4 linked regions of the Homo sapiens genome follow. The protein of the gene in region 3 interacts with the protein of the main gene of each other region in a pairwise test. Each region holds a gene or a part of one and is shown on either strand. Other genes may lie near its edges.

The links.
Region 1: the proteins of ZCCHC17 (region 3) and ZNF16 interact in binary tests that used the Homo sapiens proteins (3 or more experiments, as listed by UniProt).
Region 2: the proteins of ZCCHC17 (region 3) and SHTN1 interact in binary tests that used the Homo sapiens proteins (3 or more experiments, as listed by UniProt).
Region 4: the proteins of ZCCHC17 (region 3) and SDCBP2 interact in binary tests that used the Homo sapiens proteins (3 or more experiments, as listed by UniProt).

What each region holds. Positions count from the first base shown.
Region 1 is NC_000008.11:144,947,866-144,954,696, forward strand, and holds the start of ZNF16 (zinc finger protein 16), read right to left. Parts: upstream 3,016-6,831; 5' UTR 2,932-3,015; intron 2,759-2,931; exon of another isoform or gene 2,537-2,758; intron 161-2,536; exon of another isoform or gene 75-160; intron 1-74. UniProt on the Homo sapiens protein: Acts as a transcriptional activator. Promotes cell proliferation by facilitating the cell cycle phase transition from the S to G2/M phase.
Region 2 is NC_000010.11:116,939,162-116,946,189, forward strand, and holds part of SHTN1 (shootin-1), read right to left. Parts: intron 5,858-7,028; coding exon 5,763-5,857; intron 1,452-5,762; coding exon 1,305-1,451; intron 1-1,304. UniProt on the Homo sapiens protein: Involved in the generation of internal asymmetric signals required for neuronal polarization and neurite outgrowth.
Region 3 is NC_000001.11:31,356,023-31,363,050, reverse strand, and holds part of ZCCHC17 (zinc finger CCHC domain-containing protein 17), read right to left. Parts: intron 3,464-7,028; exon of another isoform or gene 2,254-3,463; coding exon of another isoform or gene 2,221-2,253; intron 1-2,220.
Region 4 is NC_000020.11:1,319,127-1,326,154, forward strand, and holds part of SDCBP2 (syntenin-2), read right to left. Parts: intron 6,744-7,028; exon of another isoform or gene 6,704-6,743; intron 6,657-6,703; exon of another isoform or gene 6,217-6,656; intron 5,244-6,216; exon of another isoform or gene 4,740-5,243; intron 2,075-4,739; exon of another isoform or gene 1,310-2,074; 5' UTR 1,291-1,309; coding exon 1,237-1,290; intron 534-1,236; coding exon 464-533; intron 1-463.

The sequences.
Region 1 (6,831 bases), on a different chromosome or scaffold from region 3:
TACTGATTCCCCCACCCCTCACTGTGTAAATGCACCATACCCTGCCCGGGTGCCCACTGGGAGCACTGACATACCTCAGCCCTTCACTCACATTGTACTGACATTGACTCTTCTGTCCTTCATGAGCACCAGCTGAGAATGAGGGTGTGGTCAAGGGGATCTGCAAAGGGGATGTGAAGAAAGGTGGCAGAAGGATGGTGCAGGGAGTCAACGTGATGGTACGTGTCACCCATAGGCCATGTGGGGAAGAAAGAAGGGCTGGGTGGTGCTCCTGGACTCAGATCACCATCAAGGAGAAGGCAAGGAGATATGAACAGAGCTCACAGGGATGGTTACTATGGACCAATGATAAGGGGCCTTGGCTGCCAGATGAAGGTGAAACACTGGCCACATTTCTGTGTCAGGAGAGACAAAACTAATATCTCAAGATTAACTTGGCAGGGTGCTCAGAGGAATGGTGGGAGATGAGATTCAAAGCAGGTACAGCACTAAGGTGCCTACCACGTGGCAGCAGAAATGGAGGAGACATGGGCGATGGGGGTGACAAGGCCCTCTGTGACTGCATCTGCCTGCCCTTACAGTGCAGATGCCCAGTTTCCTCGAGGGAAACCTCTCCCCATCCAAGTGGTGATGTAATAATCTGCAATATTTATTTAGTTCATTTTATTTAAAAATACTTTAAATTCTCATTGTTTCTGAATAGGGGCATAGTCACCTCAAAATTTAAAAGGTAAAAAGGATTTATGGTGAAAAATTCCCCAAACATCCACACAGTTTCCCTTGTTTCTAGTGTACCGTTCCAGATTAATCTAGGTTTACACAGCAAATATATAAACATATGTTTGCCTTTTAATGATAAATTACACCCAACTATGCTATGGCTTCACACCTTATTTTTCTCACTTCATTATGTGTGGGATCTTGCTTACCAGGACACAGAATAAATGCCCCCTCTCACCCAGGTCCATATCCTAATCCCTGGAACTTGTGCTTATGTTACACTACATACCAAAAAGGACTTTGCAAAGGGAATTAAGGTTATGGACGTGAATTACCCTGGTGGACCCAATCTAATCAAATGAGCCCTTAAAAGCCTGAGAAAGATCTGAGGGCCACATGGAAGGACCTCGGAGAGCTAAGGATCACTCAGGCTGGCAGCCAGCACTTCTGAGGACCAACCTCAAGAAAAACAGATTCGGCCAACAGCCTGAACAAGCTTGGAAGTGGAGTCTCCTGGCTAGAGGCTAAGCCTGCTCTTTAGGAGTCACACAACTGGAAGAGCCAGCCACCACCCTCCCATAGCAAGCAGCCACAGGATGGGCCCTGGCCGATCCCTCAGCACCTTCCCCCTTGGGGAAGAACTGGCCCAAACTCTCCTCCCTTCCCAGAGTACCTCCTCCACACGCAGAGCGACTCCACTACTGACTGGGCCTCCCAGGCAGGACATCTGAGGCTGAGCGAAACCCCCTTTCTCCCCCAGCTCTGCTCAGTGCATCTCTGACTTCTCATGGAACACCAGGAACCACGAACCCACCCTTGTCTCCCATGCGCTGGGAACCACCCCATCGCACTGCTGCCCCATGTAGGGAAAAGAAAGAAAGATCAGACTGTTACTGTGTCTGTGTAGAAAAGGAAGACATAAGAAATTCCATTTTGACCTGTACCTTGAACAATTGCTTTGCTGAGATGCTGTTAATTTGTAACTTTGCCCCAGCCACTTTGCCACAACTTTGAGCTCACAAAAACATGTGTTGTATGGAATCAAGGTTTAAGGGATCTAGGGCTGTGCAGGATGTGCCTTGTTAACAAAATGTTTACAAGCAGATGCTTGGTAAAAGTCATCGCCATTCTCCAGTCTCAATAAACCAGGGGCACAATGCTCTGCGATAAGCCACAGGGACTTCTGCCTTGGAAAGCCGGGTATTGTCCAAGATTTGTCCCCATGTGATAGTCTGAAATATGGCCTCATGGGATGAGAAAGACCTGACCGTCCCCCAGCCCAACGCCCGTAAAGGGTCTGTGTTGAGGTGGATTGGTAAAAGAGAAAAGCCTCTTGCAGTTGAGATAGAGGAAGGCCACTCTCTCCTGCCTGCCCCTGGGAACTGAATGTCTCGGTATAAAACCCGATTGTACATTTGTTCAATTCTGAGACAGGAGAAAAACTGCCCTATGGTGAGAGGTGAGACATGTTGGCAGCAATGCTGCCTTGTTATTCTTTACTCCACTGAGATGTTTGGGTGGAGAGAAACAAATCTGGCCTACGTGCCCATCCAGGCATAGTACCTCCCCTTAAACTTAATTATGGCACAGATTCTTTTGCTCACATGCTTTTTTTTGCTGACCTTCTCCCTATTATCACCCTGCTCTCCTACTGCATTCCTCTTGCTGAGATAATGAAAATAATAATCAATAAAAACTAAGAGAACTCAGAGACCGGTGCCGGTGCAGGTCCTTAGTGTGCCGAGTGCCGGTCTCCTGGGCCCACTGTTGTTTCTCTACACTTTGTCTTATTTCTTTTCTCAGTCTCTCGTCCCACCTGATGAGATATCCCACAGGTGTGGAAGGGCAGGCCACCCCTTCACCCCGTCGCTCCGCCCGAGCTCGAATGGTGGCACCGACAGGCGGGAACGCCACCAGCCTGTGGGCGGAGTCCTGGCTCGGCCCCTCGCGGCGACCTTACCCCGGGGTCTCCCCGGAGACCCCCTACCGGAGGCAGCCCCCAGAGGCTCTGACCTCCAGCCCAGGCCGAGCTGCCCCCGCCCCGCCCCCCCCGCGCTCCCACAACCCCCCGCGCGGCTCCGCCCCCGCCCGGGGTCCCCAGCTCGCTGCCCGCCCCGTCTGAGCCCTGAGAGGCCCCTGGGCCCCCCAACCACGGGGGCATCAGGGACAACCAGACGCAGGGTCCCAGGCGTGGAGCTTCGCGGAACTAACCTCAACGGGTCGCGCTTGGAAAGGAGGCAGCACCGTGGCACGAAGACGTCTCAGCCAACGCCGGCTGACCCCCGGAAGTCCCGCCCCGAATTCCGGCCCGCCGCTCGTTCTATCTGGGGCAGCGTAGCCTCTCTAGATGGCGGGAGGCCGGGGCGACTCTGTGGTTCAGCCCCAGACCTGGTCCCACTAGCCCTGAGGCCAGAGACCCTTCTGTTCCCCTTTTTTTCAGAGTTGACCCGTGCACTGAACAAGGCGGCAACTGAAGAAAAGGGGACACTAATAGAAATGCAGAGATAATGAGATATACTCGTGTAGTGGGAGATTTTAATATACAGGCCCCCAGAATCGGAACAGACGGTAGTTTGATAAAAACCTAAGGATACGTTTTTTGGAAGAACTGAATCATTCAATCAGTAAGTGATTAGATAGATAAATGGAAGAATTCAGATTCCTTCAGTAGATAACATGTTTTCGTGAGATTGTGCATGGATCGTTTCTAATACGGAAATGAATTGTACACTTGGACATAAAGAATACAAATAAGGCTGGGTGCGGTGGCCCACGCCTGTAATTCCAGCACTTGGGAGGCCGAGGCGGGCGGATGGCTTGAGGCTAGGAGTTTGAGACCAGCCTGGGCAATATAGGGAGACTCCATCTCTACAAAAAATACAAAAGTTAGCCAGGTGTGATGGTGTGCGCCTGTAGTCCCAGCTACTCAGGAGGCTGAGGTGGGCGGATTGCTTGAGCCGGGGAATGTGCGGCTGCAGTGAGCCGGGATCACATGTTGCACTGATGAGAGAGTGAGACCCTGTCTCAAAAAAAAGAAACAAACAACAACAACCAAAAAAAACCTCACAAATATTTTGACGTTCATTTTGCAGGCAGATTAAACTATCAAAATCAGGAATACATAATAAAAAATGCATGACAAACTCTATTGGAATTTAAGAAACACTGTCTAGATAACCCCCCCCCCTTTTTTTTTTAGTTCAGGCTGAGGTGCTCTCAGTTGGAGATGAGGAACTTATTGGAAGCTGGAGTAAAGGTCACTCTTGCTATGCTTTAGCAAAGAGATTGGTGACATTTTGGCCCTACCCTAGAGATCTGTGGAACTTTGAGCTTGAGAGAGATGATTTAGGGCATCTGGCAGAAGAAATTTCTAAGCAGCAAAGCATTCAAGATGTGACATACCTTTTTCTGAAAGTGTACAGTCATATGCATTCACAAAGAGATGGCCTGAAATTGGAACTTATGTTTATTTTTTTATTTATTTTTAATTTTTTTATTTCCATAGGTTTTTAAATTTTTATTTCCATAGGTGGTGGTGTTTGGTTACATGAGTAAGTTCTTTAGTGGTGATTTGTGAGATTTTGGTGCACCCGTCACCTGGGCGGTATGCCTTGAACCCAATTTGTAGTCTTTTATCCTTCACGCCCTTCCTGCACTTTCCCCCTGAGTCCCAGTCCCCAAAGTCCATTGTATCCTTCTTATGCATTTGCATCCTCATAGCTTAGCTACCTCTCACGAGTGAGGACATACGATGTTTGGTTTTCCATTCCTGAGTTACTTCACTGAGAATAATAGTCTCCAATCCCATCCAGGTTGCTGTGAATGCCATTAATTCACTCCTTTTTATGGCTGAGTAGTATTCCATCATATATATATGTATGATGGAATACTACTCTCTATATATGTATAGATATATACATATATACACACATATATACACACACACATATATATATAAATATATATATGCTACAGTTTGTTTATCCACTCGTTGATTGATGGGCATTTGGGCTGCTTCCACATTTTTGCAGTTGTGAATTGTGCTGCCATAAACGTGCATATACAAGTATCTTTTTCGTATAATGACTTCTTTTCCTCTGGGTAGATACCCAGTAGTGGGATTGCTGGACGAAATGGTATTTCTTGGTAGTTCTACTTTTAGTTCTTTAAGGATTCTCCACACTGTTTTCCATAGTGGTTGTACTAGTTTACATTCCCACAAGCAGTGTGGAAGTATTCCCTTTTCACCACATCCACGCCAACATCTATTATTTTTTGATTTTTGATTATGGCCATTCTTGTGGGAGTAAGGTGGTATTGTTTTGTGGTTTTGATTTGCATTTCCCTGATCATTAGTGATGTTGAGCATTTTTTCATGTTTGTTGGCCATTTGTATATCTTGTTTTGAGAATTGTCTGTTCATGTCCTTAGTGCACCCCCCACTTTTTTTTTTTTTTTTTTTTGAGATGGAGTTTCACTCTTGTTGCCCAGGTTGGAGTGCAATGGTGTGATCTTGGCTCACTGCAACCTCTGCCTCCTGAGTTCAAGCAATTCTCCTGCCTCAGCCTCCTGAGTAGTTGGGATTACAGGCATGCGCCACCATGCCGGGCTAATTTTGTATTTTTAGTAGAGATGGGGTTTCTCCATGTTGATCAGGCTGGTCTCAAACTCCCAACTTCAGGTGATCCACCAGCCTCGGCCTCCCAAAGTGCTGGGATTACAGGAGTGAGCCACCACGCCCGGCTGTTAGCCCCCTTTTTGATGGGATTATTTTTTCGTGCTAATTTGTTTGAGTTCCTTGTAGATTCTGCATATTAGTCCTTTGTTGGATGTATAGATTGTGAAGATTTTCTCTCACTCTGTGGGTTGTCTGTTTACTTTGCTGACTCTTCCTTTTGCTGTGCAAAAGGTCTTTAGTTAAGTCCCACCTATTTATCTTTGTTTTTGTTGCATTTGCTTTTGGGTTCTTGGTCATGAAATCTTCGCCTAGGCCAATGTCTAGAAGGGTTTTTCTGATGTTATCTTGTAGAATTTTTATATTTTCAGGTCATAGATTTAAGTCCTTGATCCATCTTGAGTTGATTTTTATAACGTGAAAGATGAGGATCCAGGATTATTCTCCTACATGTGGCTTGCCAACTATCCCAGGGCTATTTGTTGAATAGGGTGTTCTTTCCCCACTTTATGTTTTTGTATGCTTTGTTGAAGGTTAGTCGGCTGTAAGTATTTGAGTTTATTTCTGGGTTCTCTATTCTGTTCCATTGGTCTATGTGCCTATTTTTATAGCAGTACCATGCTGTTCTGGTGACTATGGCCTTATAGTGTAGTTTGTTTCATGTGCATCCATGTGAAGAGACCACCAAACAGGTTTTGTGTGAGCATTATTTCACCTGGGTGCAGGTGGGCTGAGTCTGAAATGAGAGTCAGTGAAGGGAGATAGGGGTGGGGCCATTTTATAAGATTTGGGTAGGTAAAAGAAAATTACAGTCAAAGGGGGTTGTTCTCTGGTGGGCAGGAGTGGGGGTCACAAGGTACTCAGTGGGGGAGCTTTTGAGCCAGGATGAGCCAGGAGAAGGAATTTCACAAGACAATGTCATCAGTTAAGGCAGGAACAGGCCATTTTCACTTCTTTTGTGGTGGAATCTCATCAGTTAAGGCAGGAACCAGCCATCTGGATGTGTACGTGCAGGTCACAGGGGATATGATAGCTTAGCTTGGGCTCAGAGGCCTGACATTCTGGTCTTCTTATATTAATAAGAAAAATAAAGTGAAATAGTGGTAAAGTGTTGGGATGGTGAAAATTTTTGGGGGTGGTATAGAGAGATAATGGGTGATGTTTTTCAGGGCTGCTTTGAGCGGGATTAGGGGCAGCGTGGGAACCTAGAATGGGAGAGATTAAGCTGAAGGAAGATTTTGTGGTAAGGGATGATATTGTGGGGTTATTAGAAGAAACATTTATCATGTAGAATTATTGGTGATGGCCTGGATATGGTTTTATATGAATTGAAAAAGTAAATGGAATAAGAGAAGGAGAAAAACAGGTATAAAAGGTCTAAGAATTGGGAGGACCCAGGACATCTAATTAGAGAGTGCCTAAGGAGATTCAGCATA
Region 2 (7,028 bases), on a different chromosome or scaffold from region 3:
CAGGGGAGTGAATGGTTCTGTGTTGTTGGAGTTCCAGGTGCCACTGGAGTATGAAGAAACACTCCTGCAGCTAGTTTGGTGTCTGCCCAAATGGCCACCCAGTTTTGTGCTTGAATCCCAGGGCCCTGGTGGTGTAGGCACCCAAGGCAATCTCCTGGTCTGTGGGTTGCAAAGATGGTGGGAAAAGCGTAGTATCTGGGCTGGAGAGCACCATTCCTCACAGCACAGTCTCTCGTGGCTTCCCTTGGCTAGGAGAGGGAGTTCTCCAATCCCCTGCACTTCCCGGGTGAGGCAACACCCCACCTTGCTTCAGCTCACCCTTCATGGGCTGCACTCACTGTCCAACCAGTTCCAGTGAGATGAGCCGGGTACCCAATGCAGAAATCACCCGCCTTCTGCGTTGATCCCGCTCGGAGCTGCAGACCGGAGCTGTTCGTATTCGGCCATCTTACCAGCCACCATATATCAACATTTCTTATTGAGGCAAAACAAATCAACTCAACCTCACCACCAAGTTTGTAAAAACTTCAGAACTTCCAAGGATTAAATGTCAATACTGTTGCCACAGAGGCTTTGACAGGTGGTAACAAGTAGCAGCTAACAGCCTTTCCTTCCCAAATGAGGTACATTATAAGTAGTATAAACATTGATGTAATTTTTCTTAAGTGGTCTCTTTAATTTGGAAGTCTTTGTTCCACTTCTTTGCTTCTCCTCTCACCTACCACAATGACTATCCTTTCTTCTTGGCACACAGAGGTAGGCTGTGTCAGCTGGAATAGCTCCACTCATCAAATTGAAATAATCACTTAGGAAGTCTTTAAACATACACATTTGTGCAAGTTTACAAAATCAAAAATTTTCTCTAAGCAAACAATTACTACTAATACGGACTGTCATTTTCTTTGAATAAAACCTATGCCCTCCAACAAGTGCTCTGAGTTGAATACAGCCTCTTAGTGTGTGCAGTCTCCAAAAAATATAACATTTCCAAAAATTGAATTTCCAGACTTTGCCTTATCCAAGCTGTTTTTAAGTTATACCTCTTTCCCTTGCTTCTTCCGACCCTTTGGACAGTTTAAAGATTATTATAAAGTCTATAATAGCGTATTACAAATTTCAGTTTCACAACATTAAGTTCATTTAGTTATTTTTTTCTAAAAGGTGGTTGAAAGCACTTAGTAACTAAGGCAAAATATGAAACAGTAAATGACTGGACTGACTGCACTGGCTCCCTTCATCTTAAATATATGTGTGTATGCATGTATGTGTGTGTGTACCTAAGATTCCAGAAGAAAATGGGTTACCTTTTGTTGATGCTGAATTCTCTCTTCTTCAAGTTGCTGGGTGAGTTTTGCATTTTCGTCTAAAGCTTTCAAAAGCTGCTGATCAGGGATGGAGCTCTGCAGCAGAAGGTGGCTTTGTCTCTTTAGCTTGTTTTGCTCAATGAACATCTGCAAAAGTTTGTTACAAGAATGTATATATCAATCAATCTCACATACCTCCTCAACTGTAACTTCAGCAAAAGAAAAGTACATGGAATTTTTATTAAATCATTAAAGGCAAATTCTGACTTCTATAAGTTTTAGAAGTAGTGATTGCTATGATTTCATTCCTTTTATATAATCTTTAATACCTTTACTCCTGCCCCAACAAGATATTTATACAATAAGCTGGTCTTACTCTTCAGTTTTTAATATTTTATTATTGCTTTAAGATACATTAATATTAATAGTAGTAGCTAATATTTCTCAAGAATTTACCTTGTGTACTCCACTAAATATTTTATATGGATTATTTTAATCCTTACATCAATCCTATTAAAGTGCTTCTACTATGAATAGGTAACATTTACTAAACACTATGTGATAGATATGGTGGGAATCATTTTACATTCATTATATCATATAATCCTTAAAACAACACTATCAAGTAGACACTACTATCATCTAATTTTACTAATAAGGTAACTGAGGCTCAAAGAAGTTAAGCAACTTTCCCAAGAACACACGTAAGTGACAAGACCAGGACTTAAACCCATATCTGATTTACATGCCCAAGCTCTTAACCATCTGGCTAAGTTCCTCTACTATTTGCTAGATCTAATGTTTTGTTTTAAACTAATTAGTTTCTCCCTAGTGATAAAAGTAGTTAACAGTAGAAGGGTAAAGGGGAGAAGGGAGACAGTATATTTTATTGAGCACTGTATTAAGCAATTTATATGTTATTCATCAAATCCTCACAACTTTACATGATTGAAAATAATATTGATTTCTATTTACCTGTTATTTCTTTTCCTTAACACTCTACCCAATTTGGCCAGTGAGTGATTCCAAGTATGAAATGTTTTTGTAAACTCTGAAATCTGGCCTACCAATTTTATAATAGAGCTTCACCTTTTCAGATTTTTAACAGCATTTTAAAATTTACATTATAACTTAACTGAAAGCTCTGAACTGCAAAATGATTTGCTAAAGCCCTCATATTAGTTTGTTCAACAACTTCACCCATCATGTAACAGAAAAAGTCAGCAAATAAAACTCAGGACAAAAATATTTTCCATCAACCTCCATGTGGCAAGACCACAGCTTTAATGATTTATACAATCCTTAAGCTCTTGATCAGTATCGACTTCCACATCAAAGTCAAGTCATGAATACAGTATACTAAAACACTAACATTTTCTTCCCAGTATGTCTTCCTATGAAAGGGAAAAAAAGGTCAGAAGCTTTCCTTCTTTGCCTAGGGATTTATGAAAAGCCTACAAAACTACGACAGGGTTCTTCTGCAGAATTAAAACACATTACAAAGTCAAACAGGTAAATAAACAATTGCATATACATGAAACCCACATTCTTCTTCCATTTGTGTGAGAGTGAGAGGTATAGAGACTGCAGTGAGGAAGAGTATGTGCATGTACACTTGGCTGGAGAAGGGTGAGATGCAGCTTCAGCATTCTAAGAAAGAGTAATCAATATTTCATCACAGTATCTTAAACTTCAGACCAGTGATTTAATTAAAATGAATTGTTTTGGGTGACCATTATGATTACAGTAATTTTTTTTTTTTTTTGAGATGGAGTCTCGCTCTGGCACCCAGGCTGGAGTGCAGTGGCACAATCTCGGCTCACTGCAACCTCTGCCTCTCAGGTTCAAGTGATTCTCGTGCCTCAGCCTCCCAAGTAGCTGGGACTACAGGTGCCTGCCACCATGCCTGGCTAATCTGTGTATTTTTAGTAGAGATGGGGTTTCACTATGTTGGCCAGGTTGGTCTTGAACTCCTGGCCTCAATTGATCCCCCCGCCTCGGCCTCCCAAAGTGCTTGGATTACAGACGTGAGCCACCATGCCTGGTCAAAAAATTTAATTATGTTGAAGAAATTTAAAATTTTAATATAGTTATGAAGACAACTGATAGTTTTCTTGTTGAGGGGGATTAAGTTTTTGGTTTTGTTTTTTAAATGAACTAGCGGGAGTTAAGAATGGGGGGTAACTTTCAATTTTTATTTTATACATTTAGAAAATATTTGTATCTTTGTGCAAGGCACACATACTCCTTTTTAATTAAAAATATAAAGTAAATTAACCTTAAAAATTGATTTCTAAGGCTCTAGACTATAAGCTCCAAGAGGGTAGGGCTCACATTTGCTTTCTTCACCACTGGATTCCCAATGTCAGCACAGTGTCTGGCACAGTAAGATGTTTGCTGCATGCCCTAAGTGGTAAGTAAAATGCAAAAGAATGGGACTCTGTTGTTAAACTAAGTTATGTGTCTTTGTGCAGTACTTACCTGTTGAAAACCTGAGAATGCATAAACTTTGTAAAAAGGAAAATATACTAGTTCCAACGTGGTGCTATTTTTTAAAAAAAAGTTTTCTTCTCACTATTGTGTAGATTGAATCTAGATATTGTAAAATTGTTGAGTGCCACTGCAAATATTTATGCTGCCAATAACGTAAGTACCATTGCTCTTGCTTTCTTTCTCTCCTCAAACTTCTACCTTCTCATTCTGGGTTAACATGTCAGCATTATTGTTTCCACCAACCACTAAGACTGAAGACCAGGTGAACAGCAGAGTCAATCATTCATTTTTGTCTTCTTACTGCAACCTTGCTTCTTCCATCTGTCTTCTCTGCTACCACATGGCCTTCAAGTTTTTCTTTGAGCTGCTTTGTATTCTAACATCATTGTGCAAACAACAGATGGAAAACTGAACATGTCTTGAAATGAGACCTGCTATTCAGGTCAAAATCAGCCGACCTTTCCAGTTTTGCAATAAAGGCATCTTCACATTATCCCTGCTTCCCCTCCCCCTCCACTGTTTATTTCACTGCATTATTTATATTGCTCCAACGTTTTCCAGAGAGCTCTGACACACTTCAATTCTTTTTTCTTTCTTCCAAGTAATAAGAGAAAAATATTTACTCACCTTTCATTAAACTCTCTAAATAAAACGAATCATAATATTTCAAATCAGATCTACTTGGCCTAAACCTTCGGTAGAGTTCACTGCTAGCACAGCTATGCTCAAGCACAGAAAGACCCCCACAAAACCATCATTGGATTTTCAAATGTCATTCCCCTAATGCCATGCTTTGTCTTCCTTCTATGCCTTGGATACCTCTACCTAGGACTGTTTTACATTTCCTGAGCTATCTTCCTTCAACCTACAGTATGCACACAAATTCAAACTACACCCACAGGATGGAGATCTCATTGCAGACCAGCTTTTGAGTTTAGCCCATTGGTGAACTCCTCATCCCCCTGGATGAGCCCCAGGGCCATGGAAGACCCAACGACTGCATGTCAACAGGTAAGCCGGAACAAGAGATTCAAAGCTGATCTCTAACATAAGAGGAAGATCAGTAGGCTGGTGAAACGCTGAGATAATGAATGTACTACATGGCAGTGTTCCACAGCCAGTGGAAGAACTTCCTGGCATAATGACAGCACTGCACAATGGCTGAAGAGAAATACTGATACCATAATACTGTTATCTGAGATGGTATATGGAGATACATCCCAGATTTTAAGCCTATTTGAAATGTACAGGCATCTTGTACCCAAGTTGGACTTTCCATCACAAGTCATGGGTTGTCTCCAAATGCAATTCCTTTCCCTTACATAGCATTTTATAGTTTATACAACACTTTTTTTAAATTTTGCCATTAAAATCCACTTGGTCAGGTCTGTATTATTGTCCATTTTACAGATGGTAAAAGTGAAGCCCTGAGAGGCTGAAGAATTGCTCAGAGGTCATACACTACTACAACTAGTAACTGACATGGCCAAAATTTGAGCCCAGATCTTTTGACAATGAACTTGATACTATTCTATATCTGCCTCCCTAAACCAGCAGATCCTTAATTCAAACTGGTAAGTTCTTATTCAACCTCAAGAATTTGTCTGATATGTCGTCTGCAAGGTCCCTTACAAAACAAAAATTCAAAAGGTTTTTACGGCTGGGCACGGTGGCTCACTTTGGGAGCACTTTGGGAGGCCAAGGCGAGCAGATCACGAGATAAGGAGATCAAGACCATCCTGGTCAACATGGTGAAACCCCATCTCTAATAAAAATACAAAAATTAGCTGGGCACGGTGGCGTGTGCCTGTAATCCCAGCTACTCGGGGGGCTGAGGCATGAGAATCGCTTGAATCAGGGAGTCGGAGGTTGCAGTGAGCCGAGATTGCGCCACTGCACTCCAGCCTGGTGACAGAGCGAGACTCTGTCTCAAGAAAAAAAATAAGATTTTTACAAGATACCCACCTCTTGTGCAAATGACTCTGCTTTCTTTCGAAGGTCCTTCTCCAGCTCCAGGTTTACTTGCATCTCCTCATACTCTTCTACAGCTAACATGGACACTTAAGAAGATAAAGGAAAAAAAAAACCCAGACAATAAGTCACACAAATAATCAGGAATATGGATGAAAAACAGTGTTGAAAAGATTTTTCATACCAGCATACAGGTACCCTCATGCATTCCTGGTTGGCATACAAACTGATAAAACCTTTTTGGAGAGCAACTTGGCAACGTGAATCAAAAATCTAAAACTATTCATACACTTTGAATAATCCCACTTCCAGGAATGCATATGCTAAGATTGTAACACATGAGCATATACAGACATTTGGTTGCAAGGATGCTCTCTACCTCATTGCTGATAAAAGTGAAATGACATAATACTCTAACACAGAAGAATGAGTAAATTGTAGTACAAGAAATATTATTCTGCCATCAAAATTATATTGTAGAAGCATACTTAGTAAATGGAAAGACATCTGTGATGTATTTTTAAAAATAGATTGCAAAAATTAGTGCAAAGTGAATTCATTTTTGTTCTTTAAAAGCCACAGATAAAGCACATCAACAGCCATTTCACAGAATAGAAAATATACAAAAGGCCAATAAACATGTGGAAAGATGCTCATCTTCATTAGGAATCAAGGAAATGCAGAGTAAAAACACTTCTTACACCCATCCAAGAGGCAACTGGTAAAAATTTTAAAGCATGGTTTTATTAAATTTGGTATGCAGTGAAAAAAAACTGAAGATAAAATTTGACATTTGGCATGTGTCTTAAAGCAACTCTTGGACATGTGCACCAGATGACATGTCTAACATTTTTTATAACAGCATGACTCAGAATAGCAGAAATATGGAAACAGCCCAAAGTCTACCAATAGGATACTACTTAAAATAATTTTAGTGTAGTCATCTAATGGAATAGTATATAGCAGTGAAAACAAACATACCACAGCTATGCCTGTCCACATGCATGAATCTCACAAACACAAAAAGTTGCAGAAGGTTACAGGAAAAATGATTCCATTTACATAGAGTTCAAAAATATGCAAAATTAAACAATGCTGTTTAGAGATATAGACATATTTGGCAAAACTACAAATAAAAGAAAGGAAATAATAAAAATTCAAGGGAGGGGTAAGAGTAGAGAGGGATGTTCATGGGTTTGTAAGGTACCAGCAAGTATAAAGAGATTCCTTTTACTGGTATTTCCTCTGTCTTCCATATAT
Region 3 (7,028 bases):
ATTTATATATATATGCACATGATATAAACTGTGTATGTTACACATACTTGTGTATATTTAGTATACACAGAGAACACTGAAAAGGATACATCAAACTGGTAATAAGTGTTACACATTGGGAATGAACTGAATGGGGGAAAGGATATGGGTCTTTCACTTTTTCCTTCAAATACTTCTGTCTAATTTGATTTTTTTTAAACAAGTATCTTATTACTTTCATTTTTTAAAGTGCAGGACATTAAAGCTGAAAGGCGCCCCTAAAGACTAGCCAGTCTATCTAGAAACAGTGACTCACATATCCAAGGTCAAAGAATAGGAGTAAAAGATTTAGAACTCCTGACTGCTATTCTGGTTTCTATTAGATCCTGGTGCCAGGGGAAATAACTGCCATCAAATAATAAGCCTGTACTTGCTACCCTTGAATATTCATCATCTCTAACTTTACAGCCACCTCACAAGATTATACTCATAAAGAAAAGAGCTGAGAAAGAACATTCCCAAAACTATACCCACCACATCATGCTACCAAAGTAACAGTACAAACCCATACAAAAGACGAGAGGCAGATTCCCAGGTGTCTAATGGGGCAGTATGAGCAGATTTTAAGCACGGCATAAATCTCTTCTTTGAATTTCAAATACCTATATTGCCTCTGTAAGGTTTCTAAGAAGAGGGAGAAAGTATGGGAGGAGAAAGAGAGCAGAAAAGGATGCCAGCTTCCAACCAGCAGCCTCAGAGCTATAAATCTAGCTGAATGATACACCAGGTCTTAGAAGCTGGCTGTGAAAAATGGTGGAAAGAACACTGAAGCAGGTGTTAGATAGACCTGGACCTGAGTTCTGGCTCTGCCATTTACTATTCTGCATCCGTGGGCAAGTCATCTGAACTCACTGAGGCCTGTTCCCTTCAAATGTAAACTGGAGATAAGAATAACATCTACTGGCTGGGCGCGGTGGCTCATGCCTGTAATCCCAGCACTCTGGGAGGCCAAGGCAGGTGGATCATGAGGTCAGGAGATCGAGACCATCCTGGCCAACATGGTGAAACCCTGTCTCTACTAAAAATACAAAAATTGGCCGGGTGTGGTTACGCGGGCCTGTAGTCCCAGCTACTCAGGAAGCTGAGGTGGGAGGATCGCTTGAGCCCAAGAGCTGGAAGTTGCAGTGAGCCATAATCCTGCCACTGCACTCCAGGCTGGGCAACTGAGCAAGACCCTGTCTCAAAATAAATAAATAAATAAATAAATAAATAAATAAATAAATAATCTCCCCCTCTCCCCAAAAAAAACACCTATGGTGACAAGTTAATGAGATAGTATCTAAGGCTTGGACAAGTTGAAAGCCACTTGTCCCAGATCGCATAGGCGCAGTTGGGATCTTCATGTAGATCATATGAATGGAAATCTCCTGAGTTTTCCTATGTAGCACATGGCCCCTCTTTCTGTATGGTAACAGGAGGCCTCATGGTATGGTCATTAGAACAACAAATTTTGGAATAAGATAGAATTAAGTTCAAATTCTAGCTCTGCAACTTAACTCACTATGTGACTTAGAACAAGGGATTTAACTTTTTTGAACCTCAGTTTTCTTTTCAGTAAACTGGAAATAATAAGTACCTATTTCAAAGGATGCTATGAGGTTTAAACAAGATAAGCACTAACTATAGTGCCTGACACATTATAGGCACTTAGTGGGAGCTATATGTATTTTTCTCTCATTAACTCCCAGGATGTTCTGACAGCCTGGCCAAGCATCTACAGGAGACAAGTCAAAGTTTTAAGAGAAGATGAAATAACAATTCTTCCTTGGCATCTCCAATGGAGTAGAGAGAAGGCAACAAAGCTTCTCAGACCCACATTACCGAGCTATAACAACCATGGCTGGGAGGAGCTGAGAGTTGGCAAATCAATAGTTTAGCTATGTTGCTGAACCTTCCTGGATGGCAAGACCATGGAAGTCCATCACAAGATATTATGGGGTCAGGAGCCTCACTGGGTTCTGCCCCTTATATAGGTGAATATCCTGGGAAAGTAAAAATGAAAATACAGAGTCTGGCACCAGTTCCCTGCAAGCCTGGTCCAGCCTGGATAAAGAAGTGAGGAGAGTAATAATACTGCCTTACACCTAAACAGTGCTTTAGTTTATCAAGCTTTTTGCATCCTTATCTTACAATAATAGTCTGTAGAGTCAAACTTCATGAGTTATTATTCCCATTTTACAGATGGAAAAACTGCAACTCAGAAATGTAAAGTGAGTCGACCAAGGCTAAAGCGGCAAAACCACTATACTTTATAACACAGAGTTTGGCACTATTTCCACTTTGTTCTCTCTCAAAGATGAAGGCTCAGGAGGAGGGAAGATAAAAACAAATCACTGGAGAGTCCTGGCATGCTGGAACATGGACTCTAGCTAGCAAGAAGGGCTCAAGGAGGTGGCCTTCTCCTAGACCTCAACTTTGATGCAAAAGCTGTTTTGCAGCCTGAACAAAGACAATCCAATCCTCCAGCAAATGGCGTCATTTTCCCTACGTGTCTAGCCTTGAGCTACAGAACAAAAGAACAATCACATCCGAAGTTGTAGTTCGCCTGGTTGCGGTGGCTCACGCCTGTGATCCCAGCACTTTGGGAGGCCAAGGTGGGTGGATCACCTGAGGTCAGGAGGTCGAGACTAGCCTGACCAACATGAAGAAACCCCATCTCTACTAAAAATACAAAATTAGCTGGGCGTGGTGGCACATGCCTGTAATCCCAGCTACTCGGGAGGCTGAGGCAGGAGAATCGCTTGAGCGTGGGAGGCGGAGGTTTTGGTGAGCCAAGATCGCGCCACTGCACTCCAGCCTGGGCAACAAGAGCGAAACTCTGTCTCAAAACAAAACAAAACAAAACACGCACACACAAAAACAAAATTAGCCGGGCGTGGTGGCACATGCCTGTAATCCCAGCTACTCGGGAGGCTGAGGCAGGAGAATTGCTTGAACCCGGAGGCAGAGGTTGGGGTCAGCCAAGATTGTGCCATTGCACTCCAGCCTGGGCAACAAGATGGAAACTCCGTCTCAAAAAAAAAAAAAAGGTTGTAGTTCAAAAGCAAAGTTGGGAGTTGGGGTGGGGGAAGACTGAGAGCCAGAAGATGAACCAAGCTTCTGCTCTCTCAACTTCATTCAAGTGAGAAGGGAAACAGAAGATAATGGGTTAAAAAAAAATGACATGGATTCAAGTATCAGATGGAAATAGAAAATTAAACATAAAACAGTTTTTAAATGGCATAGGAGTGTGAGCCCATGGCGCAGGTCAAGGGGGCACTGGAAGGAAGCCACTGGTCAAACATCTCAAAGACTGCTCTCTAGGAAAAGCACATATCCCTTGTTAGAGCAGCTAGTCTACCCATTTTCACTATAGTTCTGAAACAGGATAGCAGCAGCCCAGTGTGACAGAAAAACAAAAATAAAAGCAAAAACTGAAAAAAGAGAATATAGCAGTGAACATTTATTGAGTACTTAATTTTCTATTTTATTTATTTACTTATTTTTAGGATGGAGTCTTGCTTTGTCACTCAGGCTGGAGTGCAGTGGTGTGATCTCGGCTCACTGGAGCATCTGGCTCCTGGGTTCAGGCAATTCTCCTTGAATCGCTTGTAGTCCCAAGTAGCTGGGACTACAGGCGCATGCCACCACACCCAGCTAAGTTTTGTATTTTTTTTTAACTAGAGTCGGGGTTTCACCATATTAGCCAGGCTGGTCTCAAACTCCTGACCTCAAGTGATCCACCTGCCTCATCCTCCCAAAGTGCTGGGATTACAGGCATGAGCCACCACACCCAGCCAGTACTTAATTTTCTAAAGGCAGGTGGATCTCTTGAGCCTAGGAGTTCAAGACCAGCCTGGAAAACATAGTGAGACCCTGTCTCTACAAAAACAAACAAACAAAATTACCAGTAACCTCCACGTGGCCAAATCTAGTGGTCAATTATTGGGTCTTATTTACTTGGTCAGTCAAGATGGATACAGACCATCTTACCTAGAACACATTCATGGTATTTCTACCACATTTTACATTCTCTTACTTTTCTACAAACTTCCTTGGCTGTTCCTTTCCTGTCTTCTTTGTTAGTTCATCCTCATCTCCATAACCTCTAAGTGTTGAGCACTCTGGGGCTCAGTCTCTTCCCTATATTTACTCTGCAGGTGATCTCATGAACATAAATACCATCTATATGTAGATGACTCCCAAATTTATATATCTTACCTGGGCCTCTCCCTTGAACTCCAAACTATATATCCACTGTCTACTCTATGGTCTACTTGAATATCTGATAGGCAACTCAATTTCTATGCCCCGCCCCCTCCCAAACCTAGACTCTCCCAGCTATCTTTCCATCTGTGTAGACAGCAACTCAAACTAAACTCCTGACTGCTCCCTACTCCCACACTTACTTCTCCTGCATTCCTTCTCTTAACTCAAATCTTCCAGTTACACAGTCCAAAAATTTTGATGCCATCCTCACCTGCTCTTATATCTTCAAAATATATACACACTTCAACTCCTTTCTCATCATTTTTGCCACTGTCATTCTAGTCCAAGCCACCATCATCTGGATTATCTATCAACTCACTGCTTCTACTCTTGCTTTCTGACCATCTAAGTTTCTACATAGCAGCCAGAATAATTCTCTTAAAAGGAAGTCAGATCATGTCATTCCTCTGCTCAAAACCTCTAATAACATCCATCTCACTCAAGTGAAAGATGAAATCCTCCCAATCACCTATAAGGCCCCAGTGATCTGGGTTCCTTCTGATCTAACTTCCTCTCCTACCACTCTCTTTTCATTCATTTCACTGTAGCCACACTGGCGTCCTTAATGTTCTTTAATCATGCCACACTCTTTCCCAACATCAGCTGTTACATTTGCTGAAATGCTCTCTCTCCACTTACCTGAATAGCTTGTGTCCTCACTTCCTTCTGATATCCACTCAAACAACACTTTATGAGAAAGGCCTGGCCCAGGCCAGGCGCGGTGGCTCACGCCTGTAATCCCAGCATTTTGGGAGGCCGAGGTGTGTGGATCACCCGAGGTCGGGAGTTCAAGACCAGCCTGAACAACATGGAGAAACCCGTCTCTACTAAAAATAGAAAATCAGCTGGGCGTGGTGGTGCATGCCTGTAATCCCAGCTACTCGGGAGGCTGAGGCATAAGAATTGCTTGAACCCAGGAGGCAGAGGTTGCAGTGAGCTGAGATCGCACCATTGCACTCCAGCCTGGGCAACAAGAGTGAAACTCCGTCTCAAAAAAAAAAAAAGAAAGGCCTGGCCTTACCATCCTATCTAAAATGAAAGTCACCTGCTCCCCACATCCTCATTCTAGGACTCCCTATCTCCCTTAATCAAATTAATTTTTCTCTATAGCACTTATCACTACTTGATACATTATTTTTACTATTTTGTATTTGTTTACCAGTTTATTATCTGTGTCAATCGACCCCATCCATTAGAATCTAAGTGCCATGAAGATAGGGATTTTACCTGTTTTGTTCACTACTTTACCTGCAATGGCCAGAACAGAGCTTAGCACACAGTAGAAGCTCTATTAATGAATGAAGCTGGAGTATAGTGTGTGGGAAGAGACTGGTGGGAAATGATGCTAGGAAGCTGGGCAGATTGTGAAGAGTCTTAAAGGAACTTAGACTTTATGTCATAGAAGAAAGCGAACCACTGAAGGCTTCTGAGTAGGCAACACTGGGCAACGCTCTCTGCTGTATCTGAATAGGCAGAGAATGTGTCCCTGAGTGGGCTCAGGACTGGCAACCTTTCTCTATATAGGCACCAGAAGAAGTTCTCTGGACAGCAGGACAGAGCCAACACTGCAGCCAAAGAATGACATTCCTATTTCTTGTTCTTCTATATATGGTACAGCAGAAAATCATATGGTAAAATCAAAAGAAAATTATATTCTGAATCAAACATATCTAAAGTTTACTATAATCAGTGGGCAGCTTGGTCCCCAAGGCACTTACTTCTTCATAACATAACACCGATTCAGAAAGACCTACGATGGCATATGATTAATGAAAGAGGCCAGTAAAGCACAGACCACAAGTTCATCAGAAGATTATCCAGGGATTCACTACAAAACCTCCATTCCTATTTTACCAACCACTTCATAGCCCATTTCCAATTGCAACACACAGTTTCCTTTTATTCTAATTATGCCCAACAAAAATTATTTATAACATTCAGTCACTGGGACAAAAATTGTTCATGGTGCCAGATGCACACAACTAAATCAATGCATCCTGGACTTGTGGGAAAAGGCATTCAATACATGTATGTTTTAATGAAAAGACGTGGGAAGGCTCAAGGTTAGGAAGATCTGTTATTCTTACTCCTGCCCCTGCTCCTTTCATTATCGCCCACTGCCAGCAGCAGGAGTCAATACCTATTACTCTGCAATCTGAGGGCAGGTTTCACTGAGTGAAGACACCCAAGGAATGACAGAGAGCACAGATTATGAAGTCTATCTATTCACAGGTAGTTAGTGCATGTATTCCTATTAAGTACCAGGCATTATTTGTAAAAGGTGACATCCTTTCCTTATCCTGGGCTATTTCTGGTGGTTCCTCAACAGGTCTACCATTTTCTGTCTTCTTAGAGGCTTTGCATTGTCTTCCACTAGACTATAAAAAGTGAGGTAATGAAACAGACTTGTGAAGAAACGGAGATGAGAACCTAATGAGACTTTCCAGTTCTAGTCCTAGGTGGCCTGACTACACTGCATTTCCTGTCCTTGGATGTCCATAAAATCAAATAACCTCCTTGGAATGTGTTTCTATCCTTTACCACCATACATAGCTTGGCTGCTTATCTTTCTCCTTATATGATTAGCCGCTTGAGTGTAGGTACCATATGATCTTTATTTCATGAGTTACTTTTTTAACTGTTAGAAATGCATTAACTGAACTTACATGAGTTACTATCATATATGCCCTTCCACACGCCAGGCATTCCTACTCTCCACTGTCCAACTCAGGAGCATGGAC
Region 4 (7,028 bases), on a different chromosome or scaffold from region 3:
TCCAGCAAGGAAGTCTGACAAGTGTGGTATTTCATTCCCGGGGTCACATGAGATTGGATCACCAGAATGGTGCTGAAATGCTGATTTGAGGTGACTCAAATCGTTTATATAGACAGAGGCCCCACAAATGATATCACATCCTCAAGGCAGCCTTGCTGGGGGCATCAGAGAAGCCATAGCTTCCCTAACTTGAGCTGGGTTTGGAAGGATAAACAGGGGTTCACCAGGCAGTCAAGGAGGGAGGGGAACAGCATGGGCACAGGCTCTGGGAGGTGAGGTGACTCAGCCCAGGTCACCCAGGCAGTAAGAGGTGGGTGGCAACTGGAAGCCTGGTCCTCTCTTCCCACCATGTTGAGTCCTTAACCCTGGAGCCTCCCATACCTTTGGCATTGCCAAGCTTCCCTGATGATCTCTTCCCTGAAAGGACTTGGCACCCAGGAGCCCCTCATCCCAGCCCACTCACCTGGTGGTGGGGAAATGGCTGTTGCCTGGACTGGCAGGGCTGGCATCTTGGGTGAGGCTCTGACCTGGGCCTGGGGAGGAGCAGGGAGCACTGGTCAGCTGTGGCCAGGACCCCAGGAACCCCAGAGCCTGGAGCTCCATGAGGCCAGGGTCTGGGCATTAGGGGTGTGAGTGGGCCCGGGGTGTGGGGGGAGTGTGCACCAACCCTCAGGGCTCAAGATCACGTAAACGTGGCCTCCGCAGATGTGTCTTTTCCTGGGAGGAAGTTCTGGGGGACTGTGACCCACCCTATGTCACAACCCATTTACTGCCTGCAACAGGCAGAACATCAAGGCCCATCTCCCAATCAAGTTCTCAGCTGAAAAGTCTCCATTTCTCAAAACCCACTGGAACCACAGAGTGCTGGGATGGAGGAGGAAGGGGGCTTCTGGGGGCTAAGCAGACCAATGCCTATGCCCACTAGTCTTGTTTCCTCTGAAAGCCTGCCTTAGAGCATGGAGCCCGCCCATCCTGGAGGGAGGGAGAGCTGGGCCTGGGCAGGACAGAGCAGGCATGAGAGAGGCATGCGTGCGCTGCTTGGTCTTTTCTATTCTTGCTGTAACGCCATTGGCATTGCCCCCTGGATGTCTTCTCTGCCCAGCAGGCCCTGCAGTGGACACCTACATGCCCTGAGGCCTACGGGAATCTCCAAGTGGCCCCAGTACCCAGCACCTTCCAGGGTAATCCCCAAGGTCCCCTTCAGGGAATCCAGGCCAATGGGGCCTGGCGACTTACCTGAATGGCTTGGTCCACTTTTAGGTCCTCTAGAGATGGGTACAGGGATGACATGGCTGATTCTCAGAACACCCTGCAGAGTGCAGAGGGTGGGGAAGGATAAGGATGCAGCTGATGCCCCCTTGAAAGGAGGCACAGACATCCGCAACAGCAAGCGGGTTGGAACTTAATATTCAAACAGAAAGGCAGCAGGGCACTTAGAATGCCTCCCCGAACTCCACCCCTAATCCCCTGTCGATATTTGAACTCTACTGTATTCCACTCATCTCCAGCCTCACTGTCAACTTTTAATCTTGGCCACAATGAAGTAAGACCAGTAGGAAATTTATAAAGACTCTCACACAAACTGTAGCAGAACTTAGACACTCAACAGGGCACTGCTCCAGAGGGAGGAGGGAATGGGGGGTGGAGAGGCACCATGAGCACTTATTTACTAAACACCTTCTCATTGTCCCAGGGAGAATCAGCAGGACCTCTGAGCAAGGTGCCCCGAGAAAGTGAAAGGAATGATGACCTCTTAAGAAATGTTTTATTCCCTTCCTGACGAAATGTGGGGAAGGAGCAGTCTGCCTTTCTGGGTTCCTTCCCTTTACTCACTAACCACTGGCTCTGTCACACCTCCAGGCTTCGCTGAGGCAGTCCACTCCAACTGGAGCCCCTGCCCAACCTCCTTGTCACCCTCGGTTCCTGTGGGACACGCCTCCCCTGGCTCCCAGGCAATACGGTCACTGCCCCTCCCACCCAGGACCCTGCCCTCCGGGACAGCTCCGGGACAGCACCGGGCCAGCCTCTTGCTTGAACTCGCCACTTGTCCTGACTGCAGTTCTGAGGGGTAAAGGTGTGTCCTATTCACCCCACTGAACTCACATGTGATGGGTACACATGATAAAGGAATGCCCGCTGGTGGCACAGGAAACTGAGGGTCCTGTGCCTGAGCGATGTGACTCCAGGCTTCCCAGGATCAGATCCGCTGGGCACCTCCCTGAGTGACCACAGGCACGCCGAGGACATACTCATCCATCACTGCTCCTTCTCCTCCCTCTGCACCTGCTGCCTTGACCCCTGTGTCATCCTTGGCCCCGCCCCCACTATCCCTTCTTGTCTGTCATCAAATCCCATCTCTCCCACATCCCGTGTTGTGCAGGTCCCCATCATCTCCCTGGCCCTCTCCAGGTGCCATAACACCCTCCAAACACACTGCTGCCTCCCCTCCTGCCGTCCTGCTGCTCTCCAGACAGCAGCCACCAGGCCCTTTGTGTACACACTTGGGATGTCATGCCCTGGCTGAAAGCCCGCCAGTGGCTTCCCTGCCTTGGGAATGTACTCTCCTTAAAGAGGCTCACAGGGCCTTCACGATTCCACCAGAGATTGGAACTGGTGGGCCCAGGGCCAGATGGAAATAGATTTTATTTGACCTTGTGGAGTACTGTAAACGTTCAGATTAGCAGCTTAAACACAAAGCTCAAGGTACTGGATTTAATAATCGAATTTCCCACTGCTCCCAAAAAACAGGAAGCTTTGGCAACCCTAGGCTATAGCAGAGTAGCTACAATTGAGTAGCAGCAGACTCCAGGGTGACCCAGTCCACCATCCTCTATTGGCTGTTACACCCAGACCATTGTACTCACTGGTGCCAAGTCCCAATAGATATTTGTTTGCAACCCTAGTCTACCTCTCCAGCTTCATTTCTTGCCTTACGTCCTTTCAGCTGCTACTTTCAACTCCAGCCACAATGAGCTACTTCCACGTCCTTGCATGTGATTCCCTCCTGTCTCTTTTGCATGTGTTATTCCTTCTATCTGGAATACCCCTCCTCTCCCTGCTCCTTGCTTGGCCAACTCCTAATAATTTTCAAGTCTCAGATCAGGGAGCTCCTCTTACAGGAAGCCTGCTTTGATTTGTGCTCCCCCTAGCCCCTGCTCCATGTCCTACTCCTGTTGAGTATTCACCACTCTTGTGGTTGCCTCTTTACTTGTCTGTCTACCTCCTTAGGAGTTCCAAGATGGCAGGAACAGGGGCTTCTCATTTGCTGTGAAGCCTCTAACCCCTAGCATGGAGGCTAGCTCAATAATATTGCCAGAAGCAACACATTCTACCTGGGCTTCCACTTTTCTCCTTGTAAAGTAAAGCTCTAGTATCCTAAGAACACCCACCTTCCTGGATGAAACAAGGACCAGAAGTCCCAAATGTGCCTCTCACAGTCCTGTTTTATTATTATTATTATTTTGAGACAGAGTCTCACTCTGTTGCCAAAGCTGGAGTACAGTGGCGCGATCTTGGCTCACTGCAATCTCCAACTCCTGGGCTGAAGCCATCCTCCCACCTCAGCTTCCCAAGTAGCTGGGACATAGGTGCATGCCGCCACACCTGGTTAATTTTTGTATTTTTTGTAGAGACAGGGTTTCAGCATGTTGCCCAGGCTGGTCTTGAACTCCTGGGCTCAAGCAATTTGCCCGCTTCGGTCCCCCAAAGTGTTGGGATTACAGGCCTGAGCCACTATGCCCAGCCTTTTGTTTTTAAAATCTGAATTAGTGCCAATATTTAAAAATCTGGAAACACAAAATGCGTCACTTCTTACTTGGATTGAAAAAAATATAAACATTTGGCAAGGCAAGAGCTGGAATAGTGCATGGCAACACTCACCCGGCTGAGTCACAGCCTACCTCGCAAATGGGGCTGTACGTGCTTTCCTGTTTCCGCAAGTACCCATCAGCCCTTCACTGATTTACGTTGCCTGCTTGGTTCCTGGAGGCAGCCAGTTCCAGACCCTGCCCTAGCCTGGCCTTTGGGGTAGAAATGACCATCCCAACAGGACAGGAATTTCCTGGGAGGGGAGGGAGTCTGGCTCTGACTTCCTTTAGACCACCTGGGGGAAGAGACCCCTTTGCTTATAGCCTTCCCCACTGTGTACACACACTATGAGATTTTTAATCTTGGGACAGTCCTGAGCAGCTATCATCTGCCAAAACATGACCTGCCACCAGGACCACGCATGAACAGCAGATGCGAAAATAAGCAGCCACTCCTGCCCTGATTTTCCTAACATTTAACCAGTAGAGCACTTATATTTTTGTCAGCTGTCCCCTGGGAGAGCAGGGAGTCAGAGATCCATTTCCTGGAAATCACTCCCGGGCCAGATCACATAACCCTTTTTCTGTGTCTGAGATCCTTTCACCACTGCCACCTTCTCTGGATCCCATCTTAGTGCTGGGATGCGGGGAAGTGAGAAAACAGGTACAGTCGTTCCTTGGGGTAGGTTCCAGGACAATGCCCCTCACTCCCCATCCCTCGGATACCAACATCCACAGCTGCTTATGTCCCTTACATAAAGTGGCATAATATTTGCATATAACTTATGCACATTCTTCTGTATACTTTAAATCATCTCTAGATTACTTACAATACCTAATGCAATGTAAATGCTAAACAAAGTTATATTTTATTTTTATTTGAATTTTTGTTGTTTTTTTTAATTTTTATTTTTAAATATTTTCTGTCTACAGTTGGTTGGATCCATGGATGTGAAACCTGGGGATAGGAAAGGCATACTGTATCCCCTGCCTTGTAGCAGCTCACAATATAATGGGGAATGGTTCCCTGCCAGCGAACATGCTGTGTTTCGTTCAATCATTCAAAACATTTGAGTGTCCACTGTGTGCCAGACGTGCTGGTCCCTCTGCTGTGCACATCATCCTCCTTGGTGTGATGCTCCTTCGAGGCTCAGTTCAGATGCTACTTCTCTGCTTGGCTTTTCCAGACTGCATGATACCCAGGCTGCCTGGCTGGGTCTTCCCATGTATTCCACCCCTGACCTGTACTGCCCCTGTTGCCAAGCTATTTATCAAATTATGTGATTAATATCTGGGTATTTTCTTACACTGGACCTCACTCATAAGGGCAGGAGCTCTGTCCCGTTCACACACGATCCTTCCCCGCCACGGCACTGCCCAGCACACATATGCTAGCAAAAATTATTTGACTGAATAAATCAGTGGTTTTCCAAGGAACAGATTGGAAATTTATGTGGGCATTTTTGGGTGTCACGAGACTGAGGGGACAGTCATATCCCTGTCGGGGGTGGGGGGGGCAGGGATATGAAACTCCTGTAATGGATGGGACAGTCCATTACAGTCACCATAACAAATGGTCCTGTCCCGCACAACTTTCAGATATCCTGCCAAACTTTCAAGTAAGCCAAAAATCCGTTATAATTGGTTGTACATACAATCACAATGAATTTTTCCCTAGTTTTAGTACACACTAGACTGTCTGGAAATGCATATATCAGGTTGGTTGTGGGGAGTTACACTTTGCTCACCATTCTGGAAAATCGCTGCCCACCCTGCTCCCCACGGGTGAGTCACCCGAACAGCATGCTCACGTCTGTGTACATGTGTAGCTGTCACAGTGACTCCGCGCTTTTATATAAATATATTTAGCCTTTGACTCAAGATGTCAGATATAAACTGTTGGCAAAATTCAGCTGAATATTGTCTTCTAGTAAACCTAAGCTGATTCCTAAGTTGGGTACAAGCGTGATCGGGTGTAAGCCAGCCTCAGCTTTTACAAAGTGAAATGCATATTCTTTTATTAGAAATTACTTTCATGTCCCTGCCTTCTCCTTATAAACAAAGGGCATCATATTGATTTTTTACCCGGGGAACCATCACCTGGGCTGCAGCCTCAGGACGAACCTGTGCCTTCCCTCTGTCTCAATTTCCTGCTTTGGGAAATAGGAGCCACAAGCCACAAACTCCATCCACCGCGCCACAGGAGCGAGGTCCAACGCAACGGTCCCTAGGGCCTGCCTCCAACCCAGCCTCAGTTTCCTATCTGTCACATCGTTCTATGATCTCGAAATGACTATAACCCCTTTCTTAGCCCCAAACCAGCCGGAAGCGACATCTTCCGGTTGCTACAGGTTACGGCGGTTGCTATGGGCTACGGCGCCTGCGCAGAAACACCGCCAAGCGACTCAGCAACTTCTAGAGCGCATGCGTTTCGCCCACCCAGGCCCGGGCGCGGTTAGGGGTGACTCCCACGATCCCTAGCGGCTGCAGAGTGGAACATGGCGGCCTCCTTGCCGCTTGCGTTACCAGAGTCCACCCGGCCTCGTGCTTTCTCCGGGCGCCCGTAGCTGGCGCCGGCATCCACAAAAATAGATCAGGTAAAGCAGCAGAGTAAGGCATAGGAAGACTTGGTCGGGCTCCGCGGCCCCTCTTTACCGGATTGGAGGCTGCGCGGGTGAAATCGAGCTTTAAACTCCCCTGGCCTCGGAACACCATTTGTAGCCTCTGAAGGAGGAGGACTTATAAGATTCTGTACTAAGGCAGCCGTGGGAAGGGAGGAGAACCAGGTCGGCCCGCGCGCTCCCGGCTGCTTTTGCTCTCCCTTTGGTTTCGAAAGCGTCAAGTCCCAAGGTATTTCCTACCAATTGTGACGTCACCCTTCCTCCCCCGTTTCTCACCCGTTTCTTGTCTGGCCGTGACTTCTGACCCAGTGTTGAGCTAAAAATGCCCCGCCCCACCCTACGCAGATTCACCCCGCGTCCCACCCACCAGTGACTGAGTGACTGGGCTTCTGCTGCCTAGGGAAGGGTTCTTGGCTTGGCCGGGCAAATCAATTCCCACAGCAAAATCAGACCGAAAGCCTGTTATGAGGGACTCAGGCAGTTGGATGTGGCGTATAGGAGGAAGGCTAGGGCAATCAGGAAGGTCTCCTGGAGGAAGGAAGAAGACCCTGACTGGGCCGTGTAGGATGGATGTTCAAGTGGGAAGAGAGTGTGCTATTCC